Linked DNA regions of Homo sapiens: region 1 is reported to be linked to region 2. Evidence: microRNA targets listed by miRTarBase, many of them from high-throughput screens and not tested one by one. Region 2 holds a microRNA gene; the other region holds the end of a gene's coding sequence.

What was found. Region 2 holds the annotated microRNA hsa-miR-7-2-3p (CAACAAAUCCCAGUCUACCUAA, at 1,215-1,236, opposite strand). A microRNA usually pairs through its seed, bases 2 to 8, with sites in the 3' UTR of a target mRNA and lowers its output. Matches are read on the target gene's strand: a 7mer-m8 pairs with bases 2 to 8, a 7mer-A1 pairs with bases 2 to 7 and ends in A, and an 8mer does both.
Region 1: miRTarBase lists C4orf46 as a target of hsa-miR-7-2-3p. Seed matches in the 3' UTR shown: 7mer-m8 at 2,156-2,162, 7mer-m8 at 1,065-1,071, 7mer-A1 at 880-886 and 7mer-m8 at 142-148.

The regions. Positions count from the first base shown.
Region 1 is chr4:158,667,133-158,670,132 of GRCh38, forward strand. C4orf46 (chromosome 4 open reading frame 46) reads right to left here. Exons shown (of 2, transcript NM_001008393.4): 2 at 1-2,636. The coding sequence ends at 2,481. Among named protein-coding and RNA genes, the nearest start is that of C4orf46, 3.3 kb to the right of the region's middle.
Region 2 is chr15:88,609,603-88,613,131 of GRCh38, reverse strand. It overlaps MIR7-2 (microRNA 7-2), which reads right to left and starts at 1,307; the gene lies at 1,198-1,307. MIR3529 (microRNA 3529) reads left to right here and starts at 1,208; the gene lies at 1,208-1,285. It also overlaps a transcript of AEN not described here. RefSeq lists an enhancer at 1-98.

The DNA.
Region 1 (3,000 bases), not on the chromosome of region 2:
AAAGAACAGAAAGGTCAGAATCTGGCCCTTACATAGTAACTGCATGACAGATGTTGCACTTGAAAAATTGATACTTGGAGGAACAGCTATAAATATGTAAAAATAATTAAAACAAGATTCCAAAATCATGCCATAAAAGAAAACAAATTTCAGTTGGACTAAACATCTAAATGTTAAAAACAAAAATTTTGTAACTTTTGGAAGGCTGAATAGGACTATTTTTATGACATTTCCTATACAAAAACCAGAAAAAGCAAATCATTATGAAAGATTGGTAAAATTACGTTTTTAAAAATTCAAGATTTCATAACCAAAATATGAAGACAAACCAGACTAAAAAAGATAATTGGAACATACATAACAGATCATTAGTATTCAAAATATGTAATATCTAAAAACTGACAAGTAAAAAAAACAACATAGAAAAATGAGCAAAAATGCCTGTAATCCCAGTGCTTTATAGGAGGAGGCGAGATGGGAGGATTGTTTGAGTCCAAGTTTAAGGTTACAGTGAGCTATGATCCTGCCACCACACTCCAGCCTGAGCAATAGAGTGAGATCTTGTCTCTTAAAAAAAAAAAAAAGAGTAAAAGATATGGCCTCAGAAATCACACACTGCATTTGCTCAATATCCTGGTAGTTACAAAAGTCAGCACTGTAAAATGCAGGAGAAGGCTATACTGGGGCATGAACACCAGGAGGCCAGGGATCACTGGGGCCATCTGGAAGCTGGCTACCACATATATAAAACAATATTTTGTAGCGCTTTTAAAAAATATATTTGTATTAAAAATATAAAAACACATGCTATATTATGCCCCCTCTAGTGGTTACCTCTGGGGACTCTGGGGAGGGAGGAACGGGACAGGATCAAACAGGTAACAAAGCAAACTTCAAATGTATCTAACATTTGCAATTACATGCATATGTGTGTCTGAAGAAAATATAGCCAAATGCTAACATTTATTACATCTGCATGGTAGAAATACACGGATTTTCTTGAAATCATTTACCTTTCCTATATCTTTGAAATATGTCAATAAAGTTTTAAGGTAATGAATCCAAACAAATGGAAATAAAATGTGCTTTTAATAATAATTTATTTTTACACATTTTAAAAATTGCAATTTTCAGGAGATGTAAGAAGAATATTTTTCTAATACTGAAATAAGCATATCTTTGGTATAGAAATCACACCCTATGTGTTTATCTTTAACTAAAAAAACTAATCAAGAACTATGACCTAATATGTTAAACAAAACTATTCTTTGCCCATCCATCTGTCCCCTCTCATAGCCCCATTGTGGGGCATTAGAATATAGTTCTGTACCTATCTCCATATCTACAAAGAATTAAGATGTTGTATCAAAAATGTCCAGAAGTTATATATGGTAGAGAATTAGTTGGCTTAATCGTTGACACACAACACAAAACACCAAAAGCAACATAAGATACAGGATGCAAAATAGAACACTGTCACTAAGATCAAATAATACAAAAAAAATCACATCATTTAAATTTGATGCATTGCAAACAAAGTAACTTCTTTAGAATTATTATGTACACAACTTGCAAAGCTCAAAAAGTAATAGCACAGAGCCATAAATCTGATAAGGCACTTTAAAGATAGCAATCAAACATATACAAATATCAAATACAAACACTGTTAAACTGCAAAAGCAGTAACCACAGAAATAAATAGGGAAAAAATATGCATTCTTTCTAAACAGTCTTTCCCTTTCTGAAGTAAAGTCTTTAAAAAAAAAATCAAACAAGTACAAAAAATATTTATCATATATTTTTAAAACCTATCATCAAAGTCCAAATCTCTGTAAAAAAAGAATGTTTTTCTTCAAGTCAAAAAAGTTCAGATTCATACATTTCCTAGAGAAACAATGACAGTCTTCATGCTAAATATAGGAAGAAAAAAAGCTTTCAATTATGTTTGTTAACTCTTTTATTCAACAAACATTTAGTGAATGTTGTGTGACCCTGTTTTAGGTGCTGGGGATATAGAATAAAGACACAATCATTAGCTGTAGACAACTTAGCCTAACGGAGCTGGATCCACCACTGGCAACCTTAAAGTTACCTCCCTTGGTCCTTAAGATGAAACGCAACTTCAAAGTCTGCCATGCTTAGCATCTTGTTGCAAAACAAATAATGGTCTACCTAGTTTGCTACTGGTAGCACTGTGGCTCTATTAATATTAACCGTCTATTGATGAAGTTAACTTTCATAAAGGATTCTATGAAAGTTCAGAGGCATAAAGTATTTAAGGACAAACAAGTACTGGTCCGCAACAAAAATAGCATCGGTATTCTGCTTTCACAAAAACCAAGAAAACCAAGAAAAATTTCATTCTGAGTATATACAGAACTGCTGGACAGAGGTCATCCTATATGTGTGGTACATGTACAAAATATGACATAAGAAGTATGAATTATTGCAGTCATTATTAAACAACGAAGTATGCCAAATCAGTCATCAGGTTTCAAAGAATCATAGCCTTCTTTCAAGAGGTCCCGCCACGTTTTAAGGAAACGTGCATTTTCTGTACATTTGAAGGCAAGTTCTTCCACTTGAGCTGATACTGCAGATGTGGCTTCAAGAAGTTTGGTTAATGAAAAGGCTGCCTAAAAAAAAAAAGTCAAACATAATTTTATTTTTAAAATTCTCATCTCATTTTATAAGCAGGCTGAAAATAGCTTAAGGCTTTGAATCCAATGCCCATGTTATTTTCTTTCAAAGTAATCAGTTTTCAAACTACAGCACTGGCTCTTTCACGGAACCTAAGAAATTCTTTAATATTGAGTAGACTTTGAAGAAACAGGTCTGCTAGAAAAATATCCATTATGTCTGAGATATGACAAATCAGTATAGTTGTTTTCTTTTTTTTTTTTTTTTTTTGAGACGGAGTTTCGCTCGTTTCCCAGGCTGGAGTGCAATGGCGCGATCTTGGTTCACTGCAACCTCCGCCTCCCGGGTTCAAGTGATTCT
Region 2 (3,529 bases):
GCATTCCCTAAATGAGTACGATCCCCAACCCCCAACTTTAGTTTGTAATATGCTTTAGTCTCCTCTGCTGTATGGATGGAGGAGGGTGGGAATATACTTAGGAATAGGGAGGGCATTTGGATTTGTTGCTTGAAAATTAATCTCCACTGAAAGTGTCATCACTGTAACTTGGTGCTCACCTTAGGGCAAGGTACCCCCCAGGCAGAGGGATCCCAGGCAGAAAGGCTGGGAGGCCAGGCAAGGTGGCTGATGCCTATACTCCCAGCACTTTGGGAGACCGAGGTGGGCAGATCCCCTGACGTCACGAGTTCGAGACCAGCCTGACCAACATAGCAAACCCCTCTCTCTACCAAAAATACAAAAAATTAGCTGAGTTGGTGGCATTCACCTGTAATCCCAGCTAGTCGGGAGGCTGAGGCACAAGAATCACTTGAACCCAGGAGGTGGAGGTTGCAGTGAGTCAGGACTGTACCACTGCACTCCAGCCTGGGACAGAGTGAGACTCTGTCTCAAAAATAAATAAATAAATAAATAAATAAATAAATAAATAAATAAATAAAAGGCTGGGAAATGCTTTTTCTGATCACTAATTCTAATTGTATTCCTGCCACAGTGGGGGATGGTCCCCAAGCACTGGGCTTTTTTCCCTTGGCCACACCTCTGGATGTAGCAGCACAGAGGCAGGTACTGGGACCAAGAAATTCCATACACACAAGTCCACTCCCTCAGCTGTGGAGCAGGCACCAGACAAGCTCCGAGGTCAGGTGTGTCCCCCCTGCTGCCAGGTACACTGAACATCCGGGAACCTCGGTCTCCAGTGCATACCTCTCGGTGCCCGCATACACTGTGGCTGTCGGGCCACAGACAATGAGGCCCTGAGCCCCAGGATGTGGAGTCACAAGGTGCCTCCATTATAGGTGCCCCAAAGTGATTGTTGGGGGAATTAGTAATTAAGGAGGGTTTTTCTCCCCCTGCCCTTCAGGTAGTGGTATGGAAGCAGTCCACTGCTCCCTGAAAACAGAGACCCTGCCCCACTTCCCTGCTCACACCATAGTTTGTCCATGTTTCTGGAAGAGTCTGCCGATGGGTGTTTAGGGTGGTGACCTGAGATGTTTTCTAGGAAACACAAAAGATACAAAAAAGAACACGTGGAAGGATAGCCAAAAAGGGGGGCTGCCCCCATTTCCTGCACCCCGCTGCGATGGCTGGCACCATTAGGTAGACTGGGATTTGTTGTTGAGCGCAGTAAGACAACAACAAAATCACTAGTCTTCCAGATGGGGCCAGCCGGTCCACTCTGTATCCAGGCCAGTTCTGCAAGGCGTTCGAGGACCACCCCCCTCCCCTCGCCACCAGGTCAGCGGTCTGGATGCTCCTTCAGGCGAGGCGTTGTCTCCGCTCCTATTACTAAGTTCATCTTTGAACACCTCTCCTCACCTCAGAATTCCCTGGAGAAATTATTTTTTCTTACTTTTCCCTTTTTTCTGGAGTGTTCTACTTTCTATAATGGACACAGTTGTTTTGTTTTGTTTTGGTGAGACAGGGTCTTGCTCTGTCACCCAGGCTGTAGTGCAGTGGTGCAATCACAGCTCACTCCAGCTTCAACCTTCCAGACTCGAGTGTTCAAGTGATTCTTCCACCTCAGCCTCCCTAGTAGCTGAGACTACAGCTAATTTTTTTTTTTTTTTTTTTTTTTTTAGTAAAGACAAGGTCTCAGTATATTGCCCAGGCTGGTCTTGAACTCCTGGGCTCAAGTGATCCTCCTGCCTCAGCCTCTCAAAGTGCTGGGATTATAGACGTGAGCCACTGCACCCAATTTGAGCATATTTCCTTTACAAACAGGGGAATTATTTTTAAAGAGAAGCAGGCAAGTGGCTCATTTCTCTCTTTCCTTTACTAATCATAAAGCATTGAACCACCATGCAGAAGAGAAACTAGAGCTTGGAAATGGTGACCCCTCTCTACTGGTGCCTCCCCCTTCTGGAAGCCTATGGGCATGGCCCATGGTGAAAATTCTTCCTGTGGTTACTGAGCCCTGGAAGCTTCAGAATGAAGTCAGAGTGGTGGTGCTGGGGTAAGCAGAGCAGGAAGAGGAAAAGGGGAAATGGTTGTGGACAGGAGGCTGGTGGAATCCTGGCCCAGTCATCCCCTCCCTGCAGGCACAGCGCTGGGCTCCCTGGTTAATTTCCCTTGCAGTGTGGCACTGGTGGAGGAGAGGCAAAGCCCCTGCTGCCTGGGCCAGCCTCTAATTGCGCTGGCAGGACACATCCGCTCCTTAATTAGCAAAAGCCACAATATCCTGGCGGCTCAGAGAGCATGGCCCTAATTGTATTTCTGCAGCAACTGAAGGATAATTACCCTTCCCTATTGGTGCTGCTTTTAATTCTTTCTCTTTTTAATTGTGAGCACTTCCTCTTTAGCCCACCCTTCCATCCTTGGGTTTATTCTCTCTATCCAGAATGGGGGTGGGGGCTTGCCTGGTGATGGAGACGCTCAGGAGCAGGAGGAGTGGGGGGAGTCATGGAGAAGACTGGCAATACCTAGCTCTGAGTCCCAGCCCCTTCCAGCTGTCAGCCTGAGACAGGGCACATCTCTGCCATGGGTCTGAGAAAAACCAAGAAGTTCTTTTGTGGAAGATGTAAGGGAGAGGTGTTCCTCCCCCAGAGGCTCTTTATGACCCTCTTCAGTCTACCCCGCAGTGAGGTGCTGGCTCTGAAATTCCCAGCTGTAGAAAACTGAGACCTCCTTTCCCCATCCTTTAATCTATCAAGAAACAGAGATGGATGTGTGGTCTTTAATTTCTTTTACAAAAAAAAAAAAAAAATAGCCCCGTGCCTCTTTGCCACTGTTGAGAGGAGGGTTAGTCCTTCAACCTTGAATTGTTTTAGAGACAAGGACCTGAGGGTACCATTAGAGAACAATGCTAACTAAGGTAACCCCTTGGTTAATAGGAGAGCTTAGCACCCTAGGTATTTCTAGGAAAAACAGGCCTTTCTTAGGGACCTGGCAAATAAACTTTGAGAAGTAATAGACAAGCTAAAATGCACCACAAAGAGAGTTTGGAGAGAACCACAGCATCTCTCTGGATGTCAGCTTGCAGGACTGACTGATCTAGCTTACATGAGCAACCCTGGCCCTAAAGCCACCACCCAAACCACTGCCCTGCTAGAAGCTCACTATGAGAGCAGGGACTCTCACTCATTATTCTTCCAAGTGCCTCGCGCACAGCCTGGCCCGTGATAAATGAAACTGGTTGGCAAAGAAGCAGAGTTCAGAGACAGAGTAGGATTGTGAGGTGTGAACAGGGTAAATCCATTTTCATTGGCTTTTTCCTTACAGATCCAATGAAGATGAATTTGAACTGATTGTGGCCCTAGTTTTCAAAATTCTTTAATTCTGGGCTCTATCTGAATTGGGAGAAGATGCAAGCAATAAAAGAGGCTGCTGTAGTCTCAAAGAAATATATTTTGAAAAAATGACCTGCCCTTGAGCCCACCAACTTCCACTCCCCACTTCTAATTTCTTTCCT